Linked DNA regions of Homo sapiens. The protein of the gene in region 1 interacts with the protein of each later gene in a pairwise test. Each region holds a gene or a part of one and is shown on either strand. Other genes may lie near its edges.

What was found.
Region 2: the proteins of GSN (region 1) and ARL2BP interact in binary tests that used the Homo sapiens proteins (3 or more experiments, as listed by UniProt).
Region 3: the proteins of GSN (region 1) and TRIM69 interact in binary tests that used the Homo sapiens proteins (3 or more experiments, as listed by UniProt).
Region 4: the proteins of GSN (region 1) and NSMCE2 interact in binary tests that used the Homo sapiens proteins (3 or more experiments, as listed by UniProt).
Region 5: the proteins of GSN (region 1) and WDR20 interact in binary tests that used the Homo sapiens proteins (3 or more experiments, as listed by UniProt).
Region 6: the proteins of GSN (region 1) and DBNL interact in binary tests that used the Homo sapiens proteins (3 or more experiments, as listed by UniProt).
Region 7: the proteins of GSN (region 1) and OTUD7B interact in binary tests that used the Homo sapiens proteins (3 or more experiments, as listed by UniProt).

Annotation. Positions count from the first base shown.
Region 1 is NC_000009.12:121,313,162-121,316,661, reverse strand, and holds part of GSN (gelsolin), read right to left. Parts: intron 2,729-3,500; coding exon 2,639-2,728; intron 1-2,638. UniProt on the Homo sapiens protein: Calcium-regulated, actin-modulating protein that binds to the plus (or barbed) ends of actin monomers or filaments, preventing monomer exchange (end-blocking or capping).
Region 2 is NC_000016.10:57,248,259-57,251,196, reverse strand, and holds part of ARL2BP (ADP-ribosylation factor-like protein 2-binding protein), read right to left. Parts: exon of another isoform or gene 2,661-2,938; coding exon 2,554-2,660; exon of another isoform or gene 1,431-2,553; coding exon 1,345-1,430; exon of another isoform or gene 1,226-1,344; intron 787-1,225; coding exon 690-786; intron 1-689. UniProt on the Homo sapiens protein: Together with ARL2, plays a role in the nuclear translocation, retention and transcriptional activity of STAT3. May play a role as an effector of ARL2.
Region 3 is NC_000015.10:44,760,528-44,764,027, forward strand, and holds part of TRIM69 (E3 ubiquitin-protein ligase TRIM69), read left to right. Parts: intron 1-3,500.
Region 4 is NC_000008.11:125,353,860-125,357,359, reverse strand, and holds part of NSMCE2 (E3 SUMO-protein ligase NSE2), read right to left. Parts: intron 142-3,500; coding exon 41-141; intron 1-40. UniProt on the Homo sapiens protein: E3 SUMO-protein ligase component of the SMC5-SMC6 complex, a complex involved in DNA double-strand break repair by homologous recombination. Is not be required for the stability of the complex.
Region 5 is NC_000014.9:102,146,397-102,149,896, reverse strand, and holds part of WDR20 (WD repeat-containing protein 20), read right to left. Parts: intron 1-3,500. UniProt on the Homo sapiens protein: Regulator of deubiquitinating complexes. Activates deubiquitinating activity of complexes containing USP12. Anchors at the base of the ubiquitin-contacting loop of USP12 and remotely modulates the catalytic center of the enzyme.
Region 6 is NC_000007.14:44,058,202-44,061,701, reverse strand, and holds part of DBNL (drebrin-like protein), read right to left. Parts: coding exon 3,422-3,500; intron 3,274-3,421; coding exon of another isoform or gene 3,271-3,273; coding exon 3,222-3,270; intron 2,825-3,221; coding exon of another isoform or gene 2,801-2,824; coding exon 2,719-2,800; intron 2,349-2,718; coding exon 2,253-2,348; intron 2,160-2,252; coding exon 2,044-2,159; intron 1,655-2,043; coding exon 1,549-1,654; intron 926-1,548; coding exon 786-925; 3' UTR 1-785. UniProt on the Homo sapiens protein: Adapter protein that binds F-actin and DNM1, and thereby plays a role in receptor-mediated endocytosis.
Region 7 is NC_000001.11:149,948,227-149,951,726, reverse strand, and holds part of OTUD7B (OTU domain-containing protein 7B), read left to right. Parts: intron 1-1,505; coding exon 1,506-1,633; intron 1,634-1,948; coding exon 1,949-2,098; intron 2,099-2,643; coding exon 2,644-2,758; intron 2,759-3,500. UniProt on the Homo sapiens protein: Negative regulator of the non-canonical NF-kappa-B pathway that acts by mediating deubiquitination of TRAF3, an inhibitor of the NF-kappa-B pathway, thereby acting as a negative regulator of B-cell responses.

The DNA.
Region 1 (3,500 bases):
CCATCTCTACAAAAAATACAAAAAGTAGCAAGGTGTGGTGGCGCTTGCTTGTGGCCCCAGCTACTTGGGAGGCTGAAGTGGGAGGATCACTTGAGCCCAGGATGTCGGGGCTATAGTGAGCTATGATTGCGTCACTACACTCCAGCCTGGGTAACAGAGCCAGACTCTGTCTCAAAAATAAATAAGTAAATAAAAGAGAAGAAAAGAAAAAGAAAAGTAAAAAGAGCTAAATGCAATCTGGTATCCTGGATTGGAACCTAGAATAAAAAACTGGGGAAATCTGGCTAAAGTCTATAGTTTAGTTAATGGTACTGAAGCAATGTTAATTTCTTAGTTTTGACAAATGTACCTGGTTATGCTAAGATGCTAAGGAGAAGCTGAGTGAATGGTATATAGGAACTCTTTGTACTATCTTTACAATTTTTCTGTAAACTTAAAAATTATTCTAAAATAAAAAGTTCAACCAAGCTCAAAAAAAAGTTCTATCTTAAGAGTCAAAATTCAAAAGTTTAACAATATCCAGTTGGCAAGGCTCTGGGTAAACAGGCATTTAAGATCCCTGATGACAGTAATTTGGGAGCTGTTCCAGAGTACAGTTGACTGTGAGGTAGCAGTCCTTTAAATAATAATTATTCTACATGAATTGAGTACTTACTACTCTGTGCCAGTCACTGTTCTAAGCAATTTCTATAACTTGTATAATTATAGAACCCCTTTAATCCTTGCATATGATAGTTCTGTTACTATCCCTGTCTCATTCACAAGGAAACCAAGGCACAGAGTGGTTAAGGAACTTGCACAGCTAGAAATAGCTGACCTGGAATTCAAACACAGGTAGTCTGACTCCTGACTCCAAAACCAGTATTTTCTTTTTTTATTTTATTTATTATTATTATTTTTGAGACGGAGTCTCACTGTTGTCGCCCAGGCTGGAGTGCAATGGCACTATCTCAGCTCACTGCAACCTCCGCCTCCCGGGTTCAAGTGATTCTCCTCCCTTAGGAGGAGAGCTAGGATTAGAGGCACCCGCCACCACGCCTGGCTAATATTTTGTATTTTTAGTAGAGACAGTGTTTCACCATGTTAGCCAGGCTGGTCTCGAACTCCTGACCTCAGGTGATCCGCCTACCTCGGCCTCTCAAAGTGCTGGGATTACAGGGGTGAGCCACCATGCCTGGCCCAGAACCAGTATTTTCAACTACTGACTCATTCTTCGGCCTGTGACCAGCAGTTCCTTGTCTAGGAACTTGCCCTAGTGCTATGCTGTACTTAGCACAAGTGCACCAAGAGGGACTGTCTGCAACTGGAAAAGGTGGAACATCCTAATGTCCATCAATCAGGATTTGCTTAAATTCTTACATTCATAAAATAAAATACTATACAGCTGTTATAAAGGGTCGTGTTGAGATTTATTATAGAAAGATATTCCCGACCATGTTGAGTGGAAAAAAGACCACACAACAGCATGAATAGTTTGGATCCAGTTACACAAAATAGAAATGGCCGGGAGCGTTGGCTCAGGTCTGTAATCCCAGCACTTTGGGAGGCTGAGGTGGGCAGATCACATGAGCCCAGGAGTTTGAGACCAGCCTGGGCAACATGGCAAAACCTCGTCTCTACAAAAAATACAAAAGTTAGCTGGGCGTGGTGGCGTACATCTGTAGTCCCAGCCACTTAGGAGGCTGAGGCAAGAGATCGCTTGAGCCCGGTAGGCAGAGGTTGCAGTGAGCTGTGATTGTGCCATTGTACTGCAGCCTGGGTGACAGAGCAAGACCCTATCTCAAAATAAAATAATAAGATGGAAATGGAAAAGTAACTAGGCACAGAAAGCTGTGGCTGGACAAAGATGTGTTCTCTCATGAGGAGGAGAGGCTGATTTTTTAACTGGGTATTGTCATTTTTGTAATTAAAACATATTTTAAAAGTAATACTGGTTTTTTAAACCAGTGAAATTGCATGGACTTTTATTTTCTTTTTATATTTTGAATACTTTTTTTTCTTACAATAAACATGTATTACTTCATAATCAGAAAAAAAATCGATAATGTAGTAGTTTTTCTTTGGCAGTGGTGAAAATCGACATCCCCTTTTTGTTGTTTTACTGAAAATACTTGGGGCACAACGTAAGTGTGATTGAGCTTTCTCCCAGAGCTCAGCCAAGAGAGTTCCCTAGCTGAAGCTAAGCCTGAATTCAGTTGTGAAAATCACAAGAAAGAAATCATAAATAAAGTCATTAACTATAACCCACACCCCCAACCTCCCCACATACACACCATTTCTGTAGTATTTCCCCAAGTATTTTCTAAGCTGTTTTCACATCCATTTTATCTGTGGACTCCCAGAAATCCTACAAAGTCGACCATTCTGCTCTTCTTCCCACTTTACAGACTAGGACACTGAGACTCAGAGAGACCTCATGTATGAGCGTGACACAGATATGTACGGAGTTGATCGCATGCTCTTAGTGCAGGAAAGCAAAGGAAGTACACGAGCATCCACTGGAGACGTGAGAAAGCTGAGGCCCCCCTCCAAAGGGGTGCTTTGCTCAAGGTCCCATAGCAGTGGAGTGGGGAAGACCAAGTCTTCCACCTCCCTGTCCTGACCCCATGCCCAGGCAGACAGTGCATCTGGTGCTCACCTTGTAGAGCTTGGCCAGCTTGCGGTTGGCCGCATCCTCCTTGGCGGTGTCCTCGGTACCTGCAGGCAGAGCCGGCTTGGGGCCCAGCACCTGTAGGAGATAGAGAGATGGAGAGGAAGGGTGGCTGTGAGGGAGGGGCCAGGCTCCTGAGATAGCTCCCAGGCAGGCAAGGATCACAAGGACATCCACTGTGACCCTCCCCATGGAGTCTGACCTCCTCCAGACACATCCTGCATCTGCTCACATGTCCAGATCTGTCCATCAGAGGTCCCTTCCACCTTGTCTCCCTGACTCAGAAACTCCAGGAGAACACTCCTGCTCCTCTGCCTCCAGACAGCGCTTCAGATATTTCGCCTACCGGCTAATTGTGATAACTATAGCTACTGAACACCTTCTACCGCCTACCTTTAAAAGATGTCACTGCATCCTCGCAGCCAGGCCAGGAGGCACAGATTATCACTCTCATTTTACAGAAGAGGAATCTGAGGTCCAGAAAGATGAAGTCACCTACTCACACAGCTATTAGGTGGCTAAGCCAGAATCTGAACCTCCATCCCTGTGGCTTCAGAGCCTATTTTCACTCCCACTGTCCCTCCCAAGCCATGGTTGGTGTCCAGGTCCCTTCCCATAATAATAATCACCATTCTGCTCTCTCCAAAAGCTGGAATTGGATGCCCCCAGAGAAGCAGGAACCAAGTGACATGGAGCAGAGCTCATGGTCTTCTCCTTTTCCTAGTGAATCTTGCCTCTATTGATACGTCCTCAACGCACAATGGCTGGCAATCCCACCATGTGACTAAATGGGCCAAAAACTACCAGAAATAGTCAGAAGAGAAAAGAGGGGATTGGGGCTCAGTGGTCT
Region 2 (2,938 bases), on another chromosome or scaffold:
CAAACTCCTGAGCTCAAGCCATCTGCCTGCCTCGGCCTCCCAAAGTGCTGGGATTATAGGTGTGAGTTACCATGCCCAGTCTCCTATTTTTCTTATAAAGAGCTTGCATTATATGAAAAGCAAGGCAGGGCCAGGTGCGGTGGCTCACGCCTGTAATCCCAACACTTTGGGAGGCCGAGGCGGACCATGCTTCAGGAGTTTGAGACCAGCCTGGCCAACATGGTGAAACCCTGTCTCTACTAAAAATACAAGAATTAGCTGGGCGTGGTGGCAGGTGCCTGTAGTATCAGCTACTCGGGAGGCTGAGGCAGGAGTATTGCTTGAACCTGGAAGGCAGAGGTTCCAGTGAGCCAAGATGGTGCCACTGCACTCCAGCCTGGGTGACAAGAGCAAAACTCTGTCTCAAAAAAAAAAATAAATAAAAGAAAGGCAAGGCAGAATGAGACCTGAGACCTGCTTTTTCGGTTTTGTCCTTCTGATTAGGAACTCTAAGTTGGTACCTGGGCTTGTTTCATGAAAACATGAGAAGGTCCCAGCCACAACAGAATAGCAGCTCACTCTTCTGATGCCTCATCGGCCAGTTTGAAGGGAGAATGATGGGGGAAGCGTGGGAGGTTCATGTTCGGTATTTCTACCTGGAATTTTCTAAGTGGCTCAAAGTGGCTAAATAAATAGGAGTAGTAACTTACTGCTCTGTAGTCCAAAAACATTTCTTTAAAAGCCAGAAAATCTGTGAAGGTGAGCAGCATGTCGAATATGTCACCAGCCACTTCATCCTTATGGTGCCTGCAAACGGAACAGATGGCTGTTTCGTGAATGAATGATGAGACAGTCCTCAAGATTGCTTTCGTTTTTCTTTCCACCACCCCAGCCCCACCCCCCGCATTATTTTTGTTTTGTTTTTTTAGAGACTGGGTCTTGCTCTGTCACCCAGGCAGGAGTGCAGGGGTGCAATTATAGCTCACTGTAGCCTTGAACTGCTGGGCTCAAGGGATTCTCCAGCCTCAGCCTCCTGAGTAGCTAGGCCCACAGGTATGCAACACCACACCTGACTAATTTATTTTTTGTAGGGTCGGGGCCTCACTATGTCACCCAGGCTGGTCTTGAACTCCTGGGCTCAAGTGATCCTCCTCCCTTGGCCTCCCAAAGCACTGAGAACACAAGCGTGAGCCAATGCCTGATCTTTTCAAGATTTCATTAAAAGGTTTGAGGGCTTCCTCCATAGGACCTAACCACCAACGGCATGCACAGGAAAACAAACAAGGAGCGTCTTTTGGTCAGCCTAGGGAAGGAAGAAAGTGAGAAAACAAAACAAAACACAAAAATCAGTCAAGCTCAACTCACTGTAATGTTGTGGTGAAGGCTGCCATGTTGAACTCAGGAATCCGCTGCAGCAGCTGTTCTTCAATGTATTTTTCTACCAAAGAAATCTGCAACAGTGGAAAGGATTTTGGTGAGACCATACTTTGGGAAAACAAGACTTCTTTTCAGAAAGCCTGCCCAGCCCTTTCTAAACATTTCCTGAGGTCTGTGTGCCACAATCTACACTGAGTGCCAAGGATACCAAAGAGGACCAAAACACAGCTCCTGTCCTGGAGAAGTACTCAGCCTGGTGTGGAAGAGAAGCCTTAGCTGATAATGGTGCTGTAACAGGGTGGATGCTCTGACACAGGTGGAGACAGTGAGTAGCACGGTACCCACACCCACAACCCAGTGCAGGATGCAGTAAGTGGGGGCTTTGCCTCCTGGGTAGAGGGCATCTGTGTAACAGAACATACGGACATGGAGGCAGTCACAGGTTCCTTCTGGGCAGGTTTGTTTATGCCATGCTTCTGTGTTAAGAAAATAAAGTCCTGGAGGCCAAAATGGATTCTTAGATGACAGAATCCCAGGGGGCTGTTAAGAGGCCTCAGGGTAAAGTGTAGAGACCCAAGGGTGACGAGCTGAGGTTCCTGGGTTCCAGTCTTGGTTTTTCCACCAAATAGTTAGTGATCTTGGTCTCAGTTTTCACTTTTACTTAATAGTCATGCATATATGACTGGATTATATAGAAGAAAGAAAGAGTATGTGAAAGCAGAAAGGTTTGTCAAAAGCATGCAAATGCAAGGTATGAAGAACTCATGTACTGTGATTAAAAGCAGGATTATGATAAGCCAAACGTCTTTTATTTATTATCTTTATTATTATCATTTTTTTTTTAGAGACAGAGATCTTGCTGTGTTGCCCAGGCTGGTCTCAAACTCCTAAGCTCAAGTGATTCTTCCACCTCAACCTCCCAAATAGCTGGCACTACAGGTGTGCTACCAAGCCCAGGTCAAACTTCTTTTAAATAAGAAGCTGATGAGTTAATCAAATATTTGCCTGAAAGCCTTTTGGAAAATAGCCCCAAAGGCTGTGCAGAGGAAAATGAACTTAAACCAGATGCTAATGAGGATTCCTGGAAGTGTACTGGTGGCATATTTTAAAAGGCAGCAAATTTCAATGTCTTTTGAATCTAAATTTAAATTTTTAAAAACTCTGACCTCCTGGTAGGAGACATAGAAATCTACTTACGTATTCATTAAAAATAGGTGTGTAGATGAGTTTATTCTCTTCTGTGTCTTCAAACTCCAGGTAGTACTTGTCCATGAAATTTCTCTGTAATAACTGGAACTCGTCATCTGAACCACAGTGGGGAAAATTTATTCTTTTTAATGGAGATTACCAACCATTATGATTTATAAGTAGGCAGGATCTATGTCAGCAGTACTGCTTTCTCAATGATCAGTCTCTGGAAGGAAAGCTGATGTTTTAAGGGGGTATTAAATGGGACCCTGATGTGGAAATAGCCCAATCCTCCTGTTTTCTTTTTCTTTCTTTCTTTTTTTTTTTTTTTTTTTTTTTTTGAGCTGGAGTTTCTCTTGTTGCCCAGGCTGGAGTGCAATGGTGCGATCTCGGT
Region 3 (3,500 bases), on another chromosome or scaffold:
GGTTATTGATTTAATGAGAAATCACAAATATATCCCTGATTTAATGAAAAATCGCAAATTTTTCCAGGTAATTGACATTGAAGAAAAATCAACTATACTGAGATATAGTTAACATAGAGTAAAATTATCCAATTTTAAGGGCACAATTTGATGAGTTCTGATGTATATATACACTTAGGTAAACCTCTCCATAATCAAAATATAGAAGATTTTTATCACTCCAAAAAGTTCCTACATGCCCCTTTGAAATCAATCTCTTCCTTCTACTCTCAGCCTCTAACATTCACTGACATGTTTTATTTCACTTTAAATGTGTCTTTTCTAAATTTTTGTCTAAGTGATAGCATACATTATGTAGTGTTTTGTGTCTTCTGGTTTTTTTCACTTAGCATAATTTTTTTTTTTTTTGAGATGGAGTCTCGCTCTGTTGCCCAGGCTGGAGTGCAGTGGTGCCATCTCTGCTCACTGCAAGCTCTGCCTCCAGGGTTCATGCCATTCTCCTGCCTCAGCCTCCCGAGTAGCTGGGACTACAGGCGCCTGCCACCATGCCCGGCTAATTTTTTTATATTTTCAGTAGAGACGGGGTTTCACCCTGTTAGCCAGGATGGTCTCGATCTCCTGACCTCGTGATCTGCCCGCCTCAGCCTCCCAAAGTGCTGGGATTACAGGTATGAGCCACTGCGCCAGGCCGCATAATGCTTTTTGAGCACTTATGTTGTTCCATGTATCAATAATCATGATTATTTATTCAGTTTACTTATTCATTTCCCAGTTGATGGACATGGGGTAGTCCATGGTAGTTTTATCCATCCTGCAATTAGTGAAAATCCCAGTTTCTCTATATCCTTTCCAAAACTTGATATTGTCAATCTTTTTAATTTAAACCATTTTATTGAATGTATAGTAGTATCTTATTGTGGTTTTAATTTGTATATCTCTTGTTTTGGTGGGAGGGTGGGACAGAGTCTCACTCTGATGTCCAGGCTAGAGTACAGTGGTGCATCTCAACTCACTGCAACCTCTGCCTCCGAAGCTCAAGTGATTCTTGCGCCTCAGACTCCCCAGTAGCTGGAATTACAGGCGCGCACTGCCATGCCTAGCTAATTTTTGTATTTTTAGTAGAGATGAGGTTTTGCCATGTTGGCCAGGCTGATCTTGAACTCCTGGCCTTAAGTGATCCATCCACCTCAGCCTCCTAAAGTGTTGAAATTACAGGCATGAGCCGTGGTGCCCGGCTGCATATCCCTAATGAGCAATCCTGTTGAGCGTCCTTTCAGGTGCTTCCTTGCCATTCATATATTTTTTTGGTTGTGTTCAAACTTTTGTCTATATTTTTGTTAAATTGTTGTATTATTAAGTTGTAAAGGATACAAATCCTTTATCAGATATATGTTTCTTAAATATTTTTTCTCACTCCATGGCTTGCCTTTTCAATTTATTTTTATTTATTTATTTTTTTGAGATGGAGTCTCACTCTGTCACCCAGGCTGGAGTGTGGTGCAATCTCGGCTCACTGCAAGCTCCGCCTCCCAGGTTCACGCCATTCTCCTGCCTCAGCCTCCCAAATAGCTGGGACTACAGGTGCCCGCCACCACGCCCGGCTAATTTTTTTGCATTTTTAGTAGAGATGGGGTTTCACCATGTTAGCCAGGATGGTCTCGATCACCTGACCTCGTGATCTGCCCGCCTCGGCCTCCCAAAGTACTGGGATTACAGGCGTGAGCCACCGCACCTGGCCATCTCTGGCTAATTTTAGGACTTGCTTTTTGTCACTTGCTTCCATCAATTTGATTATACGTGGTCTTGGTGTGATTTTCTTTGTATTTATTCTGCTTGTGCGTCATTGAGCTGCTTGGATCTAAGGGTTTATAATTTTCATCAAATTTTGAATAATATCAGCTGGTATTTCTTCAAATACTTTTTTACCAACCCCTTTTCTCCTCTCCTTCTTGGAGTCTAATTTTACATATTTTAGACAACTTGATATTGTCAAGTTGTCTCATGTCATCGATATTCAGTACTTTTTTAGCCTTTTTTCACCTCACACTTTATTTTAAATGGTTTCTATTGTTATTCAAGTTCTCATCTTTTCTTCTGCATGGTCTAACCTTCTGTTAATATTGTTCAAGATATTTTCATTTTATATACATTTCATTTCTAGAAGTTTCATTTGGGTCTTTTTATATCTTTCTTATCTCTTCTCACCATGTTCATGCCTTCCTCTACATTCTTGAAAAAATGGAAGACATTTATCCATTTTAATATCCTTGTCTGCTAATTCTATCATCATTGTCATTTCTGGGCCTGATTTTATTGTTTGATTGTTCTCCTGAGAGTCATATTTTCCTGCTGCTTTGTATGGCTAGTAATCTTTTTCTTTTTAATGGGCTTTATTTTTTAGGACACTTTTAGATTTTTTAATTTTACAGAAAAACTGAGAAGATAGTATAGAGTTTTTTATATGCCCCATCCTCACTTTTCTCTATTATTAACATCTTAGATTTAACATTTTTAACAACTAATGAACCAAATTGATACATTATTAACTGAAATCCATAGTTCCTTTAGATTTTCTTAGTTTTTACCTAATGTCATTTTTCTGTTTTAGGTTTCCATCTAAGGTGCCACATTACACTAAGTTGTCATTTTCTTTAGGTGCCCCTTGGCTGTGACAGTTTCTCAGGCTTGCCTTATTTTTTATGACTTAGATAGTTTTGAGGAGTACTGGTCATATATTTTGTAAGGATGCTGCACTATTGCAATTTGTTTGATGTTTTCCTCATAAAATTTGGGTTATTAATTGGGAGAGGAAGACAGTAGCATTAAAGTGTCATTGTCATCACATCACATTAAGTGTTCATACCGTCAACATGATTTATGACTATTGATGTTGACTTTAATCACCTGGCTGAGGAAGTGTCTGTCAGGTTTCTCCACTGTACTCTTTTTCCCTCCTTCTATACTTGTATACTTTGGAAGGCAGTCATTGTGCACAGCCCACGCTTAAGGAGGGGATAGTTATGCTCCCTCTCCCTGAGGGTAGTGTATTAATGTAAATTATTTGAAATTTTGCTGCCCTGGAGATTTGTCTCTTCTGGTTGGTAATTTTTTACTGGATGCCAAATATGATGAATTTCATATTGTTTGTACTGATGAATTCATATTGGTGAATTTTGTATTTGCTGGATTTTGTTGTAGTTCTTTCAGTTCTATTGAATTTAACTCTGGCATGCAGTTAACATGGTATGACATCATTTTGTTCCTTCTGAGGCTTAAATAAAGCCTAGTTAGAGTGGCTCAAGAGCAGCCTTTAATCTAGGGCTAACTTAGCCCATTTTCTAAAGTAATATACCCTTCTGATTACCCTACCTGACGTTGACATATTACGACATTTTTCCATTCTGGTTGGCAAGATTGAAAATTATTCCCAGCCTTGTGTGAGCTCCAGAAATTGTTCAGTCTATTGATTTCTGGAGGTTCTTTCTCTGGCCTTGACGAGT
Region 4 (3,500 bases), on another chromosome or scaffold:
GAATCGTGTTTCTTTCAGGGGAAGTAGGAGGAAGCGGTACCTTTGTAATGGGGCAGGTGAAGTTGGTCTGACTTTGGGTCACAATTATATCTTCATCCACTCCTTCTGTTCCGTCAGCTTCTCTGTCAGCTTGAAGACCACCTAGAGGAAAATGGAGAGTTGATAAGCCTCTCTGGTCTAACGTCAAAGAAAAGGAAGGAATGGAAGGAAGGGAGGTGAAGAGTTTCTGGGGGAGCATTTGCTGTTGGCCCCCATGTAAGGACTGGATGCATAGAAACTCTTCTGCTTTTCAGAGAACACTACGGGGTACCTCATTCTGACTATTTTTGATAAGGAAACTGAGGCTCAGAGCAGTTAAAAAGAATCTTTTTTAAAGTTATAGAGAAAGTGACCAAGGGTGTGGCTTCAGAGTCAGAGAACCGACCTGGTGATCTCTTTCTTGTCCAGTGGTGAGACGCTGGGCTAGCAAGGTGCCCTTTTTTAAAGCCTCTGCTTTACAGCCTTGTGGCAAAGATTAAAAGAGATGAAGAATGTGGTATGCTTTGCACAGCTCATGGTACAAAGCAATAATCAATAAACAGTCATTACAATTAGGTAGTGCAGGGCTTCTCAAACTTTTTAGTTATAGGTATGAACTCTTTTAAGCTTTTTCTATGTGGGTTATATTTATCAATATTTAACATATTAGACATTAAGATTAAGGAATTTAAAATTCATTAAAAAATAACAATAAGGCCGGTTGCGGTGGCTCACGCCTTTAATCCCAGCACTTTGGGAGGCTGAGGTGGGCGGATCACGAGGTCAAGAGATCGAGACCATCCTGGCCAACATGGTGAAACCCCATCTCTACCAAAACTACAAAAATTAGCTGGGCATGGTGGCATGTGCCTGTAGTCCCAGCTATTTGGGAGGCTAGGGCAGGAGAATCGCTTGAACCCAGAAGTTGGAGGTTGCAGTGGGCCAAGATCCTGCCATTTCACTCCAGTCTGGTGACAGAGCGAGACTCTGTCTCAAAAAAAAAAAAAAAAAAAAACCAAAAAATTAAAAGTAACAGTAATAATCCCACTACGTGTTACCATAAACATTTTAAAAGTTAAAATTATATTTCCAGAACACCCCCCCCCATACACACAGACATACATAATGAGAAGAATGGCATTGTTTTCCATTTTTATAAATATCTTGAATGTCTGGCTTCATAGCAGCCAGTTGGATTTGGATATCTGCGTATGCATTCAATCTGTCACAATATCACATATCCTGTAGTCTCTGGGAAAATTCACTCATGAAAAGAATGAGAGTGAAACAGGCAGATGAGATCATACTATTATTATAAAGACAGTTTTGACCTTATGGACACTCTGAAAGACCCTTGGAGCACCCTAGAGATCCCTGGCCTGCACTTTGAGAACTGCTGAGTGATAGTGACAGGACTGGCTTTGAACAGAGCATGAGCTGCTTCTGAAACTGATGTTCTTTGAGTTACATCCCATTGGCCCCCAACTGAAAAACCAAACCAAACCAAAAACAGATGATAGACAACATTTGAATGGGATGATGGGAGTATCTCACATGAAAGCCATTCTCTCTGAAGAAAAGATACTTGTAATTTTGCACAGAAGTTAAAGATCAATAGCTTTTTTTTTTTTTTTTTTTTTTTGAGATGGAGTCTCGCTCTGTCACCCAGGCTGGAGTGCAATGGCGCGATCTTGGCTCACTGCAACCTCCGCCTCCCAGGTTCAAGTGATTCTCCTGCCTCAGCCTCCTGAGTAGCTGGGAGTATAGGTGCACGACACCATGCCTGGCTAATTTTTGTATTTTTAGTAGAGATGGGGTTTCACCATATTGGCCAGGCTGGTCTTGAACTCCTGACCTCAGGTGATCTGCCCGCCTTGGCCTCCCAGAGTGCTGGGATTACAGGCATGAGCCACGGGGCCCAGCCAAAAGATCAGTAGCTTTCTAAACATGTTGATGGTGTAGTCCTTTCTCCTTCCTTCTCCTTTCCCTTTCCCTTCTCTACTCTTTTCTCCCTTCCCTTCCTTCTTTAATTTTGGCAAAATAATACAGACATAAAAATGGCTTTCCTCAATGTGTGAGAGGAAGCCCTTGTTTCTGGTTCAGATGGTGTGGCATACCTTTCGGTTCCATAGAACTGATGACTGTGGGCCATCACCTAGGCCAGATGAGGTGTTTGTTTGCAAAGGCACTACAGGTTGAGTATCCCTTATCCGAAATGCTTGGGACCAGAAGTGTTTCGGATTTCGGACTTTGAAATATTTGCATAAGCATGATGAAATATCTTGGGGGATGGGACCCAAGACTAAACATGAATTTCATTTATGTTTCATATAAAGCTTACACACATAGCCTGAAGCTAATTTTATGCAGCATTTTTAACACTCATGTGTACTTGTTGCATGAGGCCAGATGTGGAATTTTCTGCTTGTGGCGTCATGTAGGTGCTCAAAAAGTTTTGGATTTTGGAGCATTGTGGGTTTTGGATTTTGGGATTAGGGATGCTCAAGCTGTACTGAGGGGCAGGGAAAGGGCTGCAGAGCTCTTGTTCAAGGTAACCTGGTGAATTAATTGCAACACAGGGATTCTGCCTCCAATTACTTTGTTTTTCTTAGAGAGTCACCTTCTTGGAGTAGACTGGTATATTTGTATGCCAGCTTGCTGTCCCCTAAACCAGCTTTTATTCTTTGAAGAAGGCAGTGAAGATCTCAGGGCTTGGGAATAACCAGTCAGAGCATTTTTAACCACTGGGCATTAAGGTGCAGTGCCTCGGGGCTTCCAGCTTTTCAGAGAGCTAAACAAACGTCTGAGACCTTAAAAACCATTGGTTGGCTTCAAAACAGAATAACAATAGTACTGAAATTACTAAATGTTAAAGGTCTATGCAAATGTGAAGTTAACTTCATTAATTGTTGATCCGGTAATCGAAAATACATAATTTGGAAGTAATATGTAGGGCTGGATTTATTTCTTCATAAACTTCATAAAAATTTCCCAGTATGGTAAGATAATTGCTGAAACTAATAGTCAATTACAAATTAAATCAGTTACTGGTAGCCAACCTATTTCCAAAGCAAAATTATACAAATATTTTTTCAAAATTTTGACAGCAAGGTTGGGTGCGGTGGCTCACGCCTGTAATCCCAGCACTTTGGGAGGCTGAGGTGGGCAGATCACCTGAGGTCAGGAGTTCGAGACCAGCCTAACCAACATGGTGAAACCCCTTCTCTACTAAAAATACAAAAATTAGCTGGGCGTGGTGGTGGGCGCCTATAACCTGAGCTACTCAGGAAGCTGAGGCAGGAGAATTGCTTGAACCTGGGAGGTGGAGATTGCAGTGAGCAGAGATCATGCCATTGCACTCCAGCCTGAGTGACAGAGCAAGACTCCGTCTCAAAAAAAAACAACAAATTGACAGCAATAAAATTATATATATATATATTTTTTATTTTTTAGTTTTTGAGACGGAGTCTTGCCCTTGTCGC
Region 5 (3,500 bases), on another chromosome or scaffold:
TACAGTGAAACCCCATCTCTACTAAAAAATACAAAAATTAGCCGGGCGTGGTGGCATGTGCCTGCAGTCCCAGCCACTCTGGAGTCTGAGGCAGAGAACTGCTTGAACCCAGGAGGCAGAGGTTGCAGTGTGCTGAGATCGAGCCACTGCACTCCAGCCTGGGCGACAGAGTGAGACTCCGTCTCAAATAAATAAATAAATAAAATAGAATTGATGACACAAAATATTTCTCAATTTACAAATTACCAACTGGCAGAGAAGCTGAAAAGTTGAGAAAAATGCTAAAAGAGCAGTGGACATCTTACGCTCAATCAGAAATAAAAATAAAGCATTTCTGAAATTAGAAATACAAGGCAACAAATTTAAAAATTTATAAAAAATATGATCTGCACACAACATTTTAGGGCAAATTATCTATTTGAAACCCAATGCAATATTCTTCTACTAGGCAGAGAAATACTTTTCCACTTCACCTTTACTCCTTAATTCCACTTGATACTTACATTGCTATGCCACATGCAGAGCACATATCCTCTACTTTGTATTATAATGATAAATACAAAATCAGCCGGGAACAATGGCTCACATCTGTAATCCCAGCACTTTGGGAGCACAAGGCAAAAGCATCACTTGAGCCCAGGAGTTCAAGGTCAGACTAGGCAACACAGCAAGACCCAGTCTCTACAAAAGAAAAAAATGTATTTATGTATGTATTTTTTGTTTGTTTGTTTTGTTTTGAGAGAGTCTCACTCTGTCGCCCAGGCTGGAGTGCAGTGGCACGATCTCAGCTCACTGCAAGCGCCACCTCCCGGGTTCAAGTATTCTCCTGCCTCAGCCTTCCGAGTAGCTGCGACTACAGGCACCCGCCACCACACCCAGCTAAATTTTTTTGTATTTTTAGTAGAGAGGGGGTGTCGCTGTGTTAGCCAGGACGGTCTCAAACTCCTGACCTCGTGATCCGCCCGCCTCGGCCTCCCAAAGTGCAGGGATTACAAGCGTGAGCCACCGCGCCTGGCCTACAAAAAATTTTTTAAAAATTATCCAGGCACAGTGGCACATGCCTGTAGTCCCAATTACTCAGGAGGCTGAGGCGGGAGGATCACTTGAGCCCAGGAGGTTGAAGCTGCAGTGAGCTATGATTGTGCCACTGCCCTCCAGCCTAGGTGACACAGTGAGACCCTGTTCCAAACACACACACACACACACACACACACACACACACACACAAAGCCAAACTCTTTAAAGACAGGAGTGTTAAATACACTTCACATCCGCCACAATAGACAGCAGTGCCTTGTATATACCAGTCATCAATAAATGCTTGATGAATGAGGATTATGATTTTTTTTTTTTTTTGAGACAGAGTCTCAGCTCTGTCACCCAGGCTGGAGTCCAGTGGCACAATTTCCGCTCACTGCAGCCTCAACCTCCCAGGCTCCAGCAATTCTCCCACCTAAGCCACCTGAATAGCTGGGGCCACAGGCGTGCACCACCACACCTGGCTAATTTTTTCTTGTAGAGATGAGCTCTCACTATGTTGCCCTGGCTGGTCTCAAACTCCTGGGGCTCAACCAATCCTCCTGCCTCGGTCTCCTAAAATACTGGGATTAAGGGCAAGAGCCAAGGTAACTTGTCACTGATGCTGTCAATTTCAAGTGTCCTGAAAATTAAAACTGAAGTCTACCAATTAGAAATGTCTACCAATTAAGGTTACTTCTATTTTTAAGGTCTTCTCCTGAATAACCAAACAAGATCACATTTCATATTACTGCACAAACTAACCTCACTGAGAAACAAACAGAATTATTCTCTGAGATACTAAATTCCAGACGACAAAAATCTTCCTATTTTTAAAACAAGGTTCTTGGCCAGGCGTAGTAGCCCACGCCTGTAATCCCAGCACTTTGGGAGGCCCAGGCAGGTGGATCACCTGAGGTCAGGAGTTCAAGGCCAGCCTGGCCAACATGGGGAAACCCCGTCTCTACTAAAAAGACAAAAATTAGCTGGGTGTGGTGGCAGGTGCCTGTAATCCCAGTTACTCGGGAGGCTGAGGCCTGCGAATGGCTTGAACCCGGGAGGCAGAGGTTGCAGTGAACCAAGATCATGCCATTGCACTCCAGCCTGGGGAATAGAGTGAGACTCTGTCTCCAAAACTAAAACTAAAACTAAAATAAAATAAAACAAGGTTCTTTAGCCATACAGCCAAACCACTCAGTGACAAAATCCACCATGTTTTGATGCTTGCTCAAGCTCAAGTTTGCCATCAAAGCACTTTACCCTTAAGTCACTATATTAAGTCAATGATAATAAATATCGTATAAGTGACACATTTCTTGAGGGCAGAGACTCTGACTACACCCAGCATCTAAAACAGTACCTCATATCTGGTAGGCATACTCCATGAATATTTGCTGAAAGAATGGCATTCATGACTATCTCACGGACTTCCATGACATATTCCAGGTGCTTCTCACCATTGCTCATATCTACCCATGAAGTCCTCCTTTTTTGGGAAGGTCTCGCTTTGTTGCCCAGGCTGGAGTGCACTGGCACGATCTTGGCTCACTGCAACCTCCACCTCCTGGGTTCAAGTGATTCTCCTGCCTCCTGAGTAGCTGGGATTACAGGCATGCGCCACCATACTTGGCTAATTTTTGTATTTTTAGTAGAGATGTGGTTTCCCCGTGTTGGCCAGGCTGGTCTTGAACTCCTAACCCCAGATGATCCACCCGCCTCAGCCTCCCAAAGTGCTGGGATTACAAGCCACCCATGCAATCTTTCAATATCTCATGACCACCCTCCTCTTCAAAGCCAAGAGAACCCAGGTATAGTATGAAAGTATCTCCTGCTTTAAATGATACATTAAGATGCTTTCCCCTCAGTATGCAAAATTCTAAAGTCAAATAAATCATCAATATTTCAGAAGTCAGCAAATAGCCCTTAATGGAAAAGAAACACAAGTTTCCAGTCATTCAGCAACCCTCTGTGACCTACTAAATTAAGTACAAGATTTCTCAAAGTAAATCTAATACAAAAAGTTACAGACTTCTAAACCTCTTTCTAAATTATAAAAGGGGAGCCAGGGAGGTGTGAAAAATTACAAAAGGGGAGAATGGTGTGAACATGACCCTCTCTGAAGCAGTAAAATATCTAAAACAAGTCTGTGGGGGGGAAATTTTTTTTAAAGGCATCTAGTTCACCCTCCCACACAAAGCAGGAATTCCTCCAATGTCACCAACAGGTGGTCCTGCAGTTTTTGACAAAGAGACAGAACATTTCCCATATGAGCATTCCCATAACAGAACGCTCATTCTCTCTCAAGTCAACCCATTACCTTCTTCTTTAATCAGGATCTAAAAATACTTTAGCTTTTATCAACTGACTCTTCTTCTGGCCCCAACTTCATCTCAGCATCATGAACATAAAGCTCTTCTAGCCGGGCATGGTGATTCACACCTGTAATCCCAGCACTTTGAGAGGCCGAGACGGGTGGATCACAA
Region 6 (3,500 bases), on another chromosome or scaffold:
CATATTTGTTCTTCAGAGACACGGATGAGCTGGGACAGAAAATAGGGGAAGACAACAGGCCAAGGCCACTCTGTGTTACTTTTCCTGAAGTCAGAATCAGTTGAGGCACACACTGGGGCCTGCAGGCATCGAGTGAGCCGCGTGGAGGAACATGTTGTGTCTGCCGTTTTTGAATACCCAGGGTGGGAGCTTGGCCATCTGCATCCCCACTTCCCATAGCCCAGGCAGAGGGACAGAGAAATGGAGTGGGGAGCACAGAGCAGGCTCCAACAAGACAAATTCCCTGCTGCCAAACCACCATGATCCACTCTGACTTTGGTCACAAACTCTGCTAAAAACAATTCTCTACGTTCACTGTTCCCAAGGGTCATTCTAAACAGTGGTGGCCACCACCCCTTAGAAGCAAGAGAAAAAGAAAAAAGGCAAATAAATGCAGAAGGCAGCCAGAGCCTCCCAGATGCCCCTGCTCAGGACCCTTCCCCGCAGCTTGGCAGTGGCCACTCAGGGCTTGGCCACAGGCAGGGCTTGGCTCAGTATCCTGTCAGGGGCAAGAGCCAAGCTGTCTGGGAGGGTCGGGGGATGCAGGAAGGATGTGTGGGAATCACCAGGCCATTGCTGCATTTGGGGTGACAGGCTGAGTCTGCCAAGCCGGAGGGAGCCCTGAGGCCTCATCCTCACTGGGGGTCCTATTCCTGGAAGAGTGCTGAATGTCAACTCCCAGGCCTCCTCTTCCAGCAATAAGGAAGCCATGTCTGAGAGGGGAAGGGCAAGATGTGCCCTCAGCCTCACTCAATGAGCTCCACGTAGTTGGCAGGGAACATGCCAAAATGGCCATCCGGCCCATAGCCACGCCACCAGCCTTCGTCGATCACCTCGATGCCCGTGATGAGGTTCTCGGGGTCAAAGGAGATCTCTGTGTCGTCGGCTGCAAAGAGGATGAGCCCAGATGCATATCAGGGGCTCCCTCCCACATCCCACCTGCTCGGGCAGCCCACGGCAGCCCCACACTGCTGCAGCACACCTCGCTGCAGCTCTGGTTCCTCCTCAGAAATATCCCTGCCACCCTGCTAAGCCTTGGCCAACACTGCACCCTGTCCCAATGCGGCTCCAGTGACCACACCCCCAGGGCATACCCTCCTACAGAGCATTCCCAAAAAAGGCTAGAGTAGACACCAGCCTGCTCCGTAGGGGGCCTCCACCCCATTCTCCAAGGCCTCCACCCAGGGACGCCTGGTGAACCAGCATCCAGGCCTGGCCCACCTCCCTGCTCAGAGTCCATGTTCTGTGACAAGGGTGGCAACTGGGATTCACATCAGCGGCCAGCAAATAGCTAATGAGGAACATGTAGGGAGGCCTGGGCTGTGCAGAACACTCTAGTGCCACAGTCACCCCCACTCCAGAGGTGCTTCTACCCCTAAACGCACCGCCCACCCTCCTGTCTTCTCTTCCTGATACCCCCTGGTGCCATCTTCCCATAAAACCCCAGACCCTCTTGTCTCCTAACCTCAGGACCCTGTGGTCTGTGCCAGCCAGGCCAGGGCACCTTACCTGCCTGGTAGTCGTACAGGGCACGGGCACAGAGCCCTTGCCCACTGAGCCCCTGGCCCTGAATGTGGTGGTCAATGTGCTCAGAGCCAGCACCTTGCTGCTGCACCTGCCCAGGGATGACAAAGGTGTTACCCCAGACTCAGCCCTTACACACAATCGCTGCTCTGCCCCACATGGCTCAGGTCAAGCTGGGAGTACGCAGAGGGCAAGCAGTCTACAGGCTCGGGGGCTGGGCTGCTGCTGTCCCCGCCCTACCAGAGTACAGAAGCCACAGGACAGTGCATAAATCCCTCAGCCATAGGCTGCAAGGTCCTCTTCCCACCCAGCACCTCCTATAGAGTGGGGCGTGCCCTGACAATTTATAACACAGGGCTGCTCCAAAAATGCATGTGCTTTAAAACCTGTTGCATGCCCCCAGAAAACTCAGGCGGCCCGTGATAAGTGTTCCTGAGTATGCAGCCCCTTCCTGGCCCCAGCCCCAGTGTAGGAACCCACCAGTGGGGGCTGCTCGTAGAAGGTCTCCTGCTCTGGAGGTTCCTCATACACAGCCTCCTCTTCTGCCTGCACCAGACATGGAGGAGTGCTGGGCGCCGGCTCCTCAGCAGGGAGATCTGCACCAGGGAACACAGCAGGTTCTCACTCCCACACATCCCCCTTCTCCACTGCTGTCCCCCAGGGTCCCCATGGGGTGACAAGCGCCTTGCCTGCCCTGGGCCTTGAGATGGCAGCAGCTGGCTCTCTGCCAAAGTGGGTCTCTGGTTGGGTGAGCTGCTTCTGCAGGAAGGGGCTCCTCAGCTTGCCTGCAAACCCGGGTAAATATATACATCACTTCAGAAACACCACCACACACCCACGCACCCCACAGCACCCTCCACCCTGGTGTGCTCGAGGCAGTCTCATGGGGCTTGCTCTTGCTAGTGCAGGAACAGAGGCCCCAGGGCCATGTGCTATGTGGTGACGTGGTAGACAGCGCAGCCCAATATCTTTTGGAGGCCAAACTGGTGACCAGTGTGGTCACTGATGAGGTCAATGGCCCCAGGTGTCCCTTCTCCTCACTCACTCACCCGTCACCGATATATCTGTCACTAGCCTTGGGGGAGCCCACATAGGACCCCAGGCTCCCCCTCAGCCTGCTGCTGCCTCATGGCCAGGCCCAAAGGGAGAGCTCACCAGGCTGAGGACTGGAGATGGAGGTGGTGGACATGGCCCTCTCCTTCTGCTTGAAAATCTCCCTCGGGTGCACGGCAGACTCCTGGAGGGAAGCACATGTTGACCCCTGCAGTGGGCAAAACCTTCACCACCTCTCCCCAGATCACAGCCCCTCCAGCTGTCGGCCCAGTAGCCCCTCAAAGGTGAGTGTGGGGCCAGGAGGCAAAACATGTTCTCAGGAGAGAAGTCATTTAAAAATAAAAAGTAACGTTAAAAAAGGAAGTAAAACACAGAAGCCAAGGGGCTCCCAGGGCCTCCCCCAGGACCAGGTGTGGTCCAAGCCCGACGCTTCCGCCTTTGGCTTTCCTCTCTACTGCCACCTCTTGAGGTGCCCAGATTCCAACCTGCCCCAGCTGACTGCAGGGCAGCCTCTGCCCAGGTCTGGGCTGGGCCCTCAATCCGAGATCAGGGACTTCTGCGTGTGGCCAGGACAGGTCCAAACAAGTAGAGCACCCCCATCTTACCTGCTCATTTCGGTTCCTTGAAACCACTTCTTGCTGCTGCTCCCACGTCCTGCTGGGAAGGGCCGGGTGGGGCACAGCTGAGGCACAGTCACAGCTTCTCATGCCACACCCCTTAGTCCTCCTCGCCTCCATGGGATGGAGCAGGTGCCCAGCAATGCCTCAGGGTGGGTCCCCCAGGCCAGCCTCCACCTCTGGCTCACCTCTGGGGGCTGGCCTCGCCACCCTGCTCCTGATAGCGCTGCTCCCGGCGTGCAGCCTCACGCAGCTCACGCTCCCGGC
Region 7 (3,500 bases), on another chromosome or scaffold:
TATTTAAAAAGCTGATTTCTGGACCTCCACCCCAGAAAAGTCCAGTTGAGTTGGACAGAGGTAAGGCCCAGAAATCCTTGTTTGTAATCAGCATCCAATATTGAATAAAATTGCTTTAGGGGGTGGAAGCCATTGAATATTGAGTATGTGAATGACAGGAGCAAATTTGTCCCTCCGTATTTGAACACGCTGACTCCAGTGGATAATGAAGTGGAAAGGAGTGGGATAAGATGCAGTTGTAGTAATCCAGGAAAGGGCCATGGATGAACAGTGTGGTAGACTAAAGATAAGCCCGGGAGACAGATAAAAGAAACACACAGGAAGGCCAGGCGTAGTGGCTCACACCTGTAATCCCAGCACTTTGGGAGGCTGAGACGGGCGGATCACGAGGTCAGGAGATCAAGACCATCCTGGCCAACACGGTGAAACCCCGTCTCTACTAAAAATTTAAAAAATTGCCAGGCACAGTGGCTCACGCCTGTAATCCCAGCACTTTGGGAGGCCGAGGCGGGCGGATCACGAAGTCAGGAGATCGAGACCACGGTGAAACCCCATCTCTACTAAATATACAAAAAAATTAGCCAGGCATGGTGGTGGGCACCTGTAGTCCCAGCTACTCGGGAGGCTGAGGCAGGAGAATTGCCTGAACTCAGGAGGTGGAGCTTGCAGTGAGCCCAAATCGCACCACTGCACTCCAGTCTGGGCGAAAGAGTGAGACTCCATCTACAAAAAAAAAAAAAAAAAAAAAATACAAAAAGTACAAAAAATTAGACCGGGCGAGGTGGCGGGTGCCTGTAGTCCCGGCTACTCGGGAGGCTGAGGCAGGAGAATGGCGTGAACTTGGGAGGCAGAGCTTGCAGTGAGCCGAGATCGCGCCACTGCTCCAGCCTGGGGGACAGAACGAGACTCTATCTCAAAAAAAAAAAAGAAAAAAAAACAAAAAACACACGGGAGATGGAATTGGTTAAATCACGTGACTACTGGAAGGTGAGAGATAAAAGCACAATAAATATTTCCAAATTTCTGATTATGCTACTGGATAGATGGTGAAGCTGTTCTTTCAGTGAGGAAAGGAACATAGGAAAGGAATTGTGTTTGGCTGTTTTTGTAAGACATGAGTGTGATGTGTGGGTGGCTGTAGTATATAAAATAAGTAGGATGAAGCTATGCAGTTGTGTATTGAGCTACTGGATGAAGAGAATGGAGAGAGGCTATTGAACAGGAAGAATATTAAGAGATAGGGATTACCTCCAAATTCCTAACACTGCTTTAACCCTAGAGCCTTCAAATCTCTTTTCTTGGATTTCCCCATCTGTGAAAACGGAGGTAGAAACAGCCATGGTAGCATAAAATAATCAGCTATATCAGTGGCAGCCTTAAGATTGGAAAACCAGGAAAGGACATTCTTCTTTTCCCTTTCTGCAGAACTGGTCTTCAGGGTCTCCTGTTTCTACTCTCTCATTTTTACTGCACCCTTTTCACTCTCTCCCTTCCCGTCGTTCCAGGGTGGAGAGTTCTGAGGAGCCTGTATATGAGAGCCTTGAAGAGTTTCACGTCTTTGTCCTTGCTCATGTGCTTAGGAGGCCCATAGTCGTCGTGGCAGACACCATGCTGAGGGACTCCGGAGGGGAAGGTGAGTCAGCCAGTCAGTCCTCACTCCATGCTGAGCACCCCCTTTTGCAAAGCCTTAGGCTAAGCATTGGAAGGAAGGCAGGAAAGGGGATATATAGACCCTTGGGGAAAAAGCAAGTTATCAATTAGAATAGTGCAAAATTCTCAAGAGATTCTGAGTAAAGCAGTTGGGATTAGTTGACAGGGCTTCTTAGGAAAGAATTATTAAACATGTTGGAATGAAAGCAGGGAGGGACTCAGTTGGCAGAGTGGGATGTAGGGATTGTCCACTAGGCAGAAACACAGCCTTCATAATAATCTTCATGGCTTCCTGCAGCATTTGCCCCTATTCCCTTTGGAGGAATCTATCTGCCTTTGGAGGTCCCAGCCAGCCAGTGTCACCGCTCCCCTCTGGTGCTCGCCTATGATCAGGCCCACTTTTCTGCACTCGTGTCCATGGAGCAGAAGGAGAATACCAAGGAACAAGGTGCTGAATGACATGTCTTTTGGTCTGCATTATTTTCACTTGAAAAAATTGAATGAGATCTAATGTAGGAGGAAAGAATTAAGTGACATGCAAGCCCAGACAGCACATGTTGATACTGTTTTATTAAGCCAGAAGTTACGCCAGAGTTTTCAAATTAAAAAAAAAAGGGTTGGGAGAAAAGCAAGACCTATATACCCTCTTCTGGAGTAAAGGCTTATGATTAAGGTGTAAGAGCTTCTAAATGATGCTTTTCTAATTTGTCTTAAATTATGACTGAATTCTCTGAATATACATTAACTGGAAAGAACATCATGAGAGTTAGTTGACTGACTGGTGGGGACTCAGGGAGATTTGTGGCCTAAAACATATGCTGCGTGGTAGCGGGAAAACTAGCCAATTAGTTTTAATACCGGGGTAATTCACGTGTAAGAATTGAGAAGTGACTACAATTAAAGACCTTAGTATGATTTTAGTGAAATAAGTCTGTGTTCAGTTACCTTTCTCTCTTAAGGAGATTCCTTGATGATATGTTTCTTCCTCTCCAGCTGTGATCCCACTTACAGATTCAGAGTATAAGCTGCTGCCCTTGCACTTTGCTGTGGACCCTGGAAAGGGCTGGGAGTGGGGCAAAGATGATAGTGACAATGTCCGATTGGCCAGGTAAGCCAGGCCTAGTCTTTTCATCTATTTTGTGCTGGGATTTCTTCCACATGTGGCATCCATCTCCCAGGGATTTTTCCTCAGCTCAGGCAAGACAGTCACAAGCTAAGATGAGTTTTGGGAAGATGGGGAGGTAGAGGAGAGGTTGGGCACCAGGACTCTTTCATGGTGCAGCTGCTTTTTCTCCCTGTGAAAGAGATGGGAATCCTAGCATCTCAACTTGTTCTTTTCTTACAATAGGAAAAGTGTTCATACACTGATTCATCTCTAAAACATTGATCAGAAAATCAGGATAATCAGGCCGGGCATGGTGGCTTATGCCTGTAATTCCAGCACTTTGGGAGGCTGAGGTGGGTGGATCACGAGGTCAGGAGTTCGAGACAAGCCTGGCCAATATGGTGAAACCTCGTCTCTACTAAAAATACAAAAATTAGCCAGGCGTGGTGGTGCGTGCCTGTAATCCCAACTACTAGGGAGGCTGAGGCAGGAGAATCGCTTGAACCCAGGAGGCAGGGGTTGCAGTGAGCCGACATCGTGCCACTGCACTACAGCCTAGGCAACAGAGTGAGAGTCTGTCTCAAAAAAAAAAAAAGAAAGAAAGAAAATCAGGATAATCAAATCACATGTCTTAGCCCAAGTGAGAGGAGTTTTAAAGAGTTGATCAAGGCTGGGTGCGGTGGCTTATGCCTGTAATCCCAGCATGTTGGGAGAAACCACCATCAGAGTGAACAGGCAACCGAGG